Homo sapiens: one gene and its partner. The protein of the gene in region 2 interacts with the protein of the main gene of each other region in a pairwise test. Each region holds a gene or a part of one and is shown on either strand. Other genes may lie near its edges.

Region 1 (3,746 bases), on a different chromosome or scaffold from region 2:
TCTGAGCATTTAGAAGAGCTGTCATTTATTGGAATGGTGATGACTACAGGACAAGCAGATTTAAGCGTGTGTATATGCTGTGTAGTGTGTATGTGTGTGTATGAACTGAATGTTGTTTGATACTTAAGAGGCCTATTAAACATCCAAATATCTAAATTCGTGCCTGCCATATAGTAGATATATTCAATATTTATTGAATGAAAAAGGTAAGACATTGAGTAAGGCAATAGAATTTAAAAATCCAAGTATATCTATCCACTATGAACTTCTCTATATATCTAAGTATATTCACTCTCATGTTTTGCAACCATGAGGCCTCACCAGAATCCTTTACTTTTTCATCCTGGAAGAGATACTGGAGATCCTCCAACTCACGCATTCTAAAGTAAACTAAGGACCAGAGATTAGAGAGCAGCGATCAAGGTCAAGTGCATTTATGCTACAGCTAGAACCCGACATCAGGCTTTCTGATTCTTAATTCATTGTTCCACACTACAACAGCTTTTCCTGCCCCACAAACATTAGTGCTAACTTCATAATGTCCGGTGAACTGTTCTTTTCAAGGAGTATATTTGAAGGGTTCGCCTTATAGAAACTGACTAGTTGGAATCTATTTTACAAAGCATTGAATGCAAGTGAAAACTGCTACACGTGAAGTAGTCATGATTTTTAACCCTCCGGCAACAAGTTCAGACTGGTCAGAAAGAGCAATGATATTTAGATGAGCATTACACAGATAATATATATTACTTGACAATTATGTTAGCAAACAATCACATCCTTTGACTAGGTCTGTATAGCTAGAAAAATACTCGACTTATAGTTAGCCAGCAAACTTTTAACACAAATACGTTTTTTGCTACGAATAAATAGCTACGTGGTTTTAAGTAGAACTTATAGTCTACTTAACTTTCAACAAACCAAGTATTGAGTGTCCACTGTGTCAGTGTACTAGACATGGGAAGCAAAAATGAAGTGTCCTTAAATCAAGTAAACAGACAAAAACAAACGAAAAATAATTCTTAGAGAAAAAAGCAATTTAAAAAAAAGTGCAAACACCTATTGAGAACTATTGATCACGTAGTGCTAGAATATGCAGAATAATTAGATCTTTGTGGAATTGTTGGGAAGAGGTTTCCTGAATGAGAGAGTATGGGATTTAAGAAAAGAATCAGATATGGCAGGCGGAGAATATGGCACTAGAAAAGCTAAAGGGTAGAAGCAAGTCAGTCATGGCATGAGTCCACACTCAGGTGTAACAGGACTGGATCATTGTTATTAAACTAAGGGTGGAGGCGGCAACTGAAGAAAAGCTGCAAACACAAGCCAAAGCCGTTCACAATTGACCTCTGAAGACCAACGACTGTGATAATGTGATCAAAACAAAGCATTTAAGTTTTGTTTAGGTTTCCTGCCGCATTCTAAAGGCAGACTTCACATTCTTACAATTTTCTTCATTCTTCAGTATCTGTCAGCGTGTTTAACTACTTTTAACATACAACTTTTAAAAAAGTCAAGACACACTACGAGGAACTTTTTCCGAAGGAAGTGATCCAAAGAACAGAGTGTGAGTCAATAAACGGAGAAAGGGAGTAGAGAAGCGGTTTACTATCCCCCGCTTCCGCCCCAGTGTGCTGTAAACTTTAAGTCGGGAAAACTATGTTTTAACCGATGAGATAATGCCTTTAAAAGTGCTTAGCACACTGTCTGGCCAGTAGGAAGCACTCAAGAAATTATGATTATTTTGACCTTAGACCTCTCTTAACTGTCTGAAACTGGGGTTTCTTATTTTCAGGGGAAGAAACAGGACACAGGCAGTCTAGAGGCTCCTGCCAGCCGAGACAATCTCCAATTAAAAGTCGGCATCGATTAAATATTTGCTGAACAAAGTAAACTGTCTCTCCACCGCCGGGCTGAGCGCCCACTCGAGATCCGGCCCGGAACAAGGGCGAGACTGGCCCGCGGGTCCCACACTCCCTGTAAGGGGTGGAGAACACGCCCACACGCCCAGACCAACAGGCGAGGCTGTTCGAGGACCTTGTTAGCCACCTCAGCCCCGCCCGCCGCGAGCCTTCTGCTGGCCTCCCGTTCTGCAGGGACCCTCCCTAGCCAGCCCGGCCGCGTCCCACATCCGCCGACACGCCCCTTCCGGCCTAATCCCCGCCCCTCAAGCACCGGCCCCGCCCCATAGGCCCCGTCCGTGGCCCCGCCCCGCCGCGAGCTGGCGCCGGGTCCTCTCAGCGCCCGCCGGCGGCCGCGTCCACCCCCGACGCTCTGAGGTCACCGACTGGGCCGGCCCGCGGGGGGCGGAGGGACGGAGGGAAGATGGCGGCAGGGGCCGGATATTGGCGCCGCCTCCCCCAATCCCGGAGCCGGCGCAGATGAGGCAGTTCGGCTGGGGCCAGCGGCGCTTTGGAACCCGAGGTGGGGGGACCCTGGCGGTGGGGCCTGGTCCTGCTATATGCCGGCGCCTCGGCTAGAGTGAGCGGCGGCGACGCCTCTTTCCTCCGTCTCTTTCCCTGTCGCTGCGAGAGCGAGCGGGCGGCGGAGGCGGCGGCGGCGGCGGGGCCGGGATGGAGGACGTTAACTCCAACGTGAACGCGGACCAGGAGGTGCGGAAGCTGCAGGAGCTGGTGAAGAAGCTGGAGAAGCAGAACGAACAGCTGAGGAGCCGCTCGGGGGCCGTGCAGGGCGCCGGCTCCCTTGGGCCCGGCAGCCCGGTTCGGGCCGGCGCGTCCATTCCCTCCTCCGGCGCGGCGTCTCCTCGGGGCTTCCCCTTGGGCCTCAGCGCCAAGTCGGGCGGCGGGCCCGGGTCGGGCCCGAGGCGGACGAGTAGCGAAGAGCTGCGGGACGCCACCTCCTTGCTAGCGGCGGGCGAGGGCGGCTTGCTGGACGAGGTGGAGCCGCTGCGGCCCGACGAGCTGGAGCGCCTGTCAGGCTGGGAGGAGGAGGAGGAGAGCTGGTGAGCGCGAGGCGCCGGGCAGGAGCTGGGCGGGGACGGGCCCGGGGGCGGAGAGCGTCCTCTGAGGGTCCCTCTGGTCGGGCGCCTCGCTTTGTGTAGCCGGGTCCGCTCTCCTGTGGCGACTTGTGGTTTTCTTGCTTTGGCAGAGGGAACGTCAGCTGGAGTTGGGGGTTCGAGGCGTGCGCAAGTAACAGGGTTGTAGCTCGTTGTCCTTTGGATTGTGGACCTTCTGAGTGCTGGACCCTATTGGGGTCTGTGGGTTGGGGCAGCTTGAGAAGGGCTGTTCGCCTGGGGAGGAGTCGGAGGTGGGAAACTGCTTTGTAGGCAGGGATCCTGCTTTGTGTAAGATACTGGCTTTCGGATGGTGGCCCTGGGCATTCTGGATGTAGGAGAGGGGTCTGCTTGATGAGGTATCACCAGGTGTGGGGGTCAGGGGCAGACCAGAGTCGTCTACGTCTATGCAGCGGTTGGTGTTTGGGACCCATTTCTGGCGGGGATGGGGAGACCGTATGAATCAGCACTCCCCTTTGGGTAGTGGGGTAAACCTTGCTTTGTGTGAAGAGAGGGCAGAGGATGGTGCTGCTTTTTTTTTTTTTTTTTTTTTTTTGTTACTCTGTGTGAAGAGTCAAGGGTGGAACGAGCCCTGGCTCTTATTTTCTAAAACAAGAATTGAGTCTGGCGTTTTGCAGAGCTCTGAATTGACAGTTATCACATCCATCTTTCATTTCCACGTCCTTCTAGGGGCAGAGAAAAAGAGTCCTATTTAAAAATTTAAACCAAAGCT
Region 2 (3,746 bases):
ATCGCACCACTGCACTCTAGCCTGGGCGAAAGAGCAAGACTCTGTCTTAAAAAAAAAAAAAAAGGAAAAGAAAGTGAGTGTTGATGGAATTAAGATAAAAGTTTACAGGAGAGTTGGTATATTCAAACACACTTCATATGAGAGCATAAGAGCTCCACACCCTTCTCCCATACCTACAAGCCCTACGCCTCTCTTCATCTGTATGCTTTGTAGCATCCTTTACAATAAACCGTGAAGGTAAAAAACAAACAAACAAACAAACAAAAAACACCAAAAAAACAGGTGCTGCTAAAACTGAACTGTCAGTAGTAGAAGACTGCGATGGAATTACCACACCCACTGTTCATAATTCAAACATAATTCAAAACTGATCAAGACTTTAAAGTAATGGAGAATAAAGTAAAAGGCATGTTAATTGTTACGGAATACCTTTGCTTGCCATTGCCTCAGTGAACAGCCTTTTAAAAAATTTTTTTTCTTTTTTTTGAGACAGAGGGTCGCTCTGTCACCCAGGCTAGAGTGCAATGGCGGGATCTTGGCTCACTGCAACCTCTGTCTCCCGGGTTCAAATGATTCTCTTGCCTCGGCCTCCCGAGTAGCTAGGATTACAGGCGCCCGCCATCACGCCCAGCCATTTTTTGTATTTTTAGTAGAGAGAGAGAGAGAGAGACGGGGTTTCACCATGTTGGCCCGACTGGTCTCAAACTCCTGACCTCGTGATCCGCCCGCCTCGGCCTCCCAAAGTGTTGGGATTACAGGCGTCAGCCACCGCGCCCAGCCTAAAATCTTATTTAAAAATTTTTTTACATGAGTTTACCAACTAGATTTAACTTATGGTTGCAAAATAAATTGATTTCACCTTTATCTATATCATTAAATTTGGTAAAAGCATTACAGTTTGTCCAGTCACTTCAGAGAAGTCAAAGTCTTCTACAATTTCTTAAAGTTTCAAAAGATTCTTAGCTTAATTTATTGGCTCTTTAGGTCAAAAGAAGGACTTTTCAGGGTGATGAAAATGGAGGAAGGAGGAGCTCACCTTTCTAAAAATGAGTTTTCAATTACTATAATTATGCATAAGACAGGCAGCATTTCTGGGCCAAGATTTGATGCCTTGGTCCCATGAGAATTAAATTAGAGCCACGCATAAATTTGGGGCAAGTTCTGCAAAAACCACTTCAACCTCTATTGATGCTGAATAAAAAACTCATTGTTAAGATTCATCAACACGAATATATTTTCTAACACACACTAGCCACTCTGGCAACAACCCTTTCATCATTTTCTATCCAAGAAACACAACGGAATGCATTTCAATCCTGCTCAACAATTACCACGATTACAAGTAGAGGGGAGAGCTCAAAAGTAAGAATCTAGTTCACCGAGCCCGACCTTAAAGTAGCAAGGCCCAACCCACACTGCTGGCTATTGTATTGGTTCCCCAACACCTCCAGGGCTGGAAGGACACCAGAACGCTCCCGACACGTTGAGAGAGAGAAAGCCAGTCGTTAAGGGCGGGGTGGTGGATGATCGGAATCGTTCACATCGCAGCAAGCCAGCAGGGACACAGGTGTGCGGCCAGGCCCCGGTGCCGCTGTCCTTGCTCCAGGGCGACAAGGCCCTTCGCAACCACCACAGCCCTCGTAGGCGCTTACTTATTCATTCACTTGACAATTACGCGAGAGGCACTCTAGCAGGGCCGGCTCTCGGGGCCCCCGCCCTAGTCTTGGTAAATCGCTGCCGCCAGGCGCGGCCCTGCACCGCCCGCGCCCCGCGGACGCTGCCACCCGCGCCACGCTGCGGCGCGCTCTGGCCACCTGGAGCCCAACCCCGGCCTCCGCCGCACACGAGCGCCCACGCCCCCGGCCCTGCCCGCCGCAGGTCCCCCGGCCTCCGGCTCGCTTCGCCGCCTCAGACCTGCCGGGTTCGTGGGGCAAGTGGGGCGCGCGTCTGGAGACCTCCAGCCGCCCAGGATTCAGGGGCTCCTCTGCGCGCGCGATGCCTGCACTCGAGGGCCTCGCGGGTGGGGCAGGCCCACCGACCACTCACCTCAGCTGGGTCAGAACCAAGCGGCCTGCTCTAAGCCGTTTGAAACCGCTTGGGCCGCCGCACACCCCGCAGTGTCCTCGTTCTTTATTGGTCCTCGACGGACCGCCCATCGGACTTTTATTGGTCCATTTGAAAGGCCTGTGGGCACGCGCCGCCCGCAGCCTTAAAGGGGCCGCGCGCAGCCGTGTTTCCCTCTGGACCAGACGCCGCCTGCACGGGTGGGGACGCTGGTCGCTGCCGGGGGCAAGTCTGCCGACTCCAGAAAGAAAGGCGAAAGAATGTGTGTAGACCCGGGCATCCTTGGTCGTCAGCATGTTTGCTTTATTTAATTACAGATGTTCAGGCTGCTGTCAACACCCGACAATTTTTTTTGGTCATTTCATTCCCTAGAGATTGTGAAGCTAAGTGCTGTGAGGGAAACCAGAGGCAGCTGAGATGTCGTGGAAGTAACAGCGAATGAAGCCAGGATGCTGGATTCTGACCTTGGAACTGTTCTGAGTAAATCACTTTTCTCAGTAAATCTTCTGGAGTTGTTTCCTTATCTGTAAAATGGGATAACGATGTTTCCCTTACAATTTAATGGAGGAGTTAATATAACTAATAGAATGTCTGAGAAAAGCCTTTGTGAACTGTAACGCATCCTGCAAATGCTTAATATTCCCTTATAAAAACGAGAGGCTTGGTTAACATGATCTCCAGAATTTTAGCTTAGCTCTACATTCAGTGTTTCTGTGAATGAGTTCAGGTCCTTACTTCCAAGGAATTTGTAATCTACAGTGGTTGGAGGAATATAACATACAGACTAGTCACTAAAATTCAAAGCAGTGTAATAACTGTATAAATGAAAAGCTATAAATGCTTAGAGACAGGAGAAATTTGATGGGGGAGGATCTGTGAGGAAGATGAATTTTTAACCTAGGATTTAAAGAATGTGTAGATTCCCAACAGGCTAAAAGATGGAGAGAGGATGGATAAAAGTAAATGAAACAATTACATGTTTTTTCATTGTCAAGTTGGCAGAGATGAAAAAGTTCAACAGCCTTTGGTTGGTCAAGATTTGGAAAAACAGGCTGGGTGCAATGGCTTATGCCTGTAATCCTAGCGCTTTGGGAGGCCGAGGCAGGAGGATTGCTTGAGGCCAGGAGTTCAAGACCAACCTGGGTCTTGCTATCAAGACCCCATCTCTGTTTTTAAAAATATAAAGAGATTTGGAAAAATGGACACTCAAAGTCAATATTGGTAAGAGTATAATTGGTACAAACCTTTAGGAGGACAATTTGACAGTTACTAAAATGTACATAATCTAGTTCTGGCCCAGTAATCCACTATGAGGAATTTATCGTACAGATCTGTGCAAGTATGCAAAGAAAAATGTACAAGGATGTTTACTGCAATACTGCTTTTTTTTTTTTTTTTTTTGAGACAGTCTCGCTCTGTCGCCCAGGCTGGAGTGCAGTGGCGCAATCTCAGCTCACTGCAACCTCCGCCTCCCGTGTTCAAGCGATTCTCCTGCCTCAGCCTCCTGAGTAGCTGGGACTACAGGCACGTGCCATCACACCTGGCTAATTTTTTGTAGTTTTAGTAGAGACGGAGTTGCACTGTGTTAGCCAGGCTGGTCTTGATCTGCTGACCTCGTGATCCTCCCGCCTGGGCCTCCCAAAGTGCTGGGATTACAGGCGTGAGCCACTGCACCCGGCTTT

The links. Proteins that work in one complex are often made in the same cells at the same time.
Region 1: the proteins of CKAP5 (region 2) and SLAIN2 interact in binary tests that used the Homo sapiens proteins (3 or more experiments, as listed by UniProt).

Annotation. Positions count from the first base shown.
Region 1 is NC_000004.12:48,339,167-48,342,912, forward strand, and holds the start of SLAIN2 (SLAIN motif-containing protein 2), read left to right. Parts: upstream 1-2,362; 5' UTR 2,363-2,573; coding exon 2,574-2,962; intron 2,963-3,570; exon of another isoform or gene 3,571-3,746.
Region 2 is NC_000011.10:46,844,174-46,847,919, forward strand, and holds the start of CKAP5 (cytoskeleton-associated protein 5), read right to left. Parts: upstream 2,108-3,746; 5' UTR 2,047-2,107; intron 1-2,046. UniProt on the Homo sapiens protein: Binds to the plus end of microtubules and regulates microtubule dynamics and microtubule organization. Acts as a processive microtubule polymerase. Promotes cytoplasmic microtubule nucleation and elongation. Plays a major role in organizing spindle poles.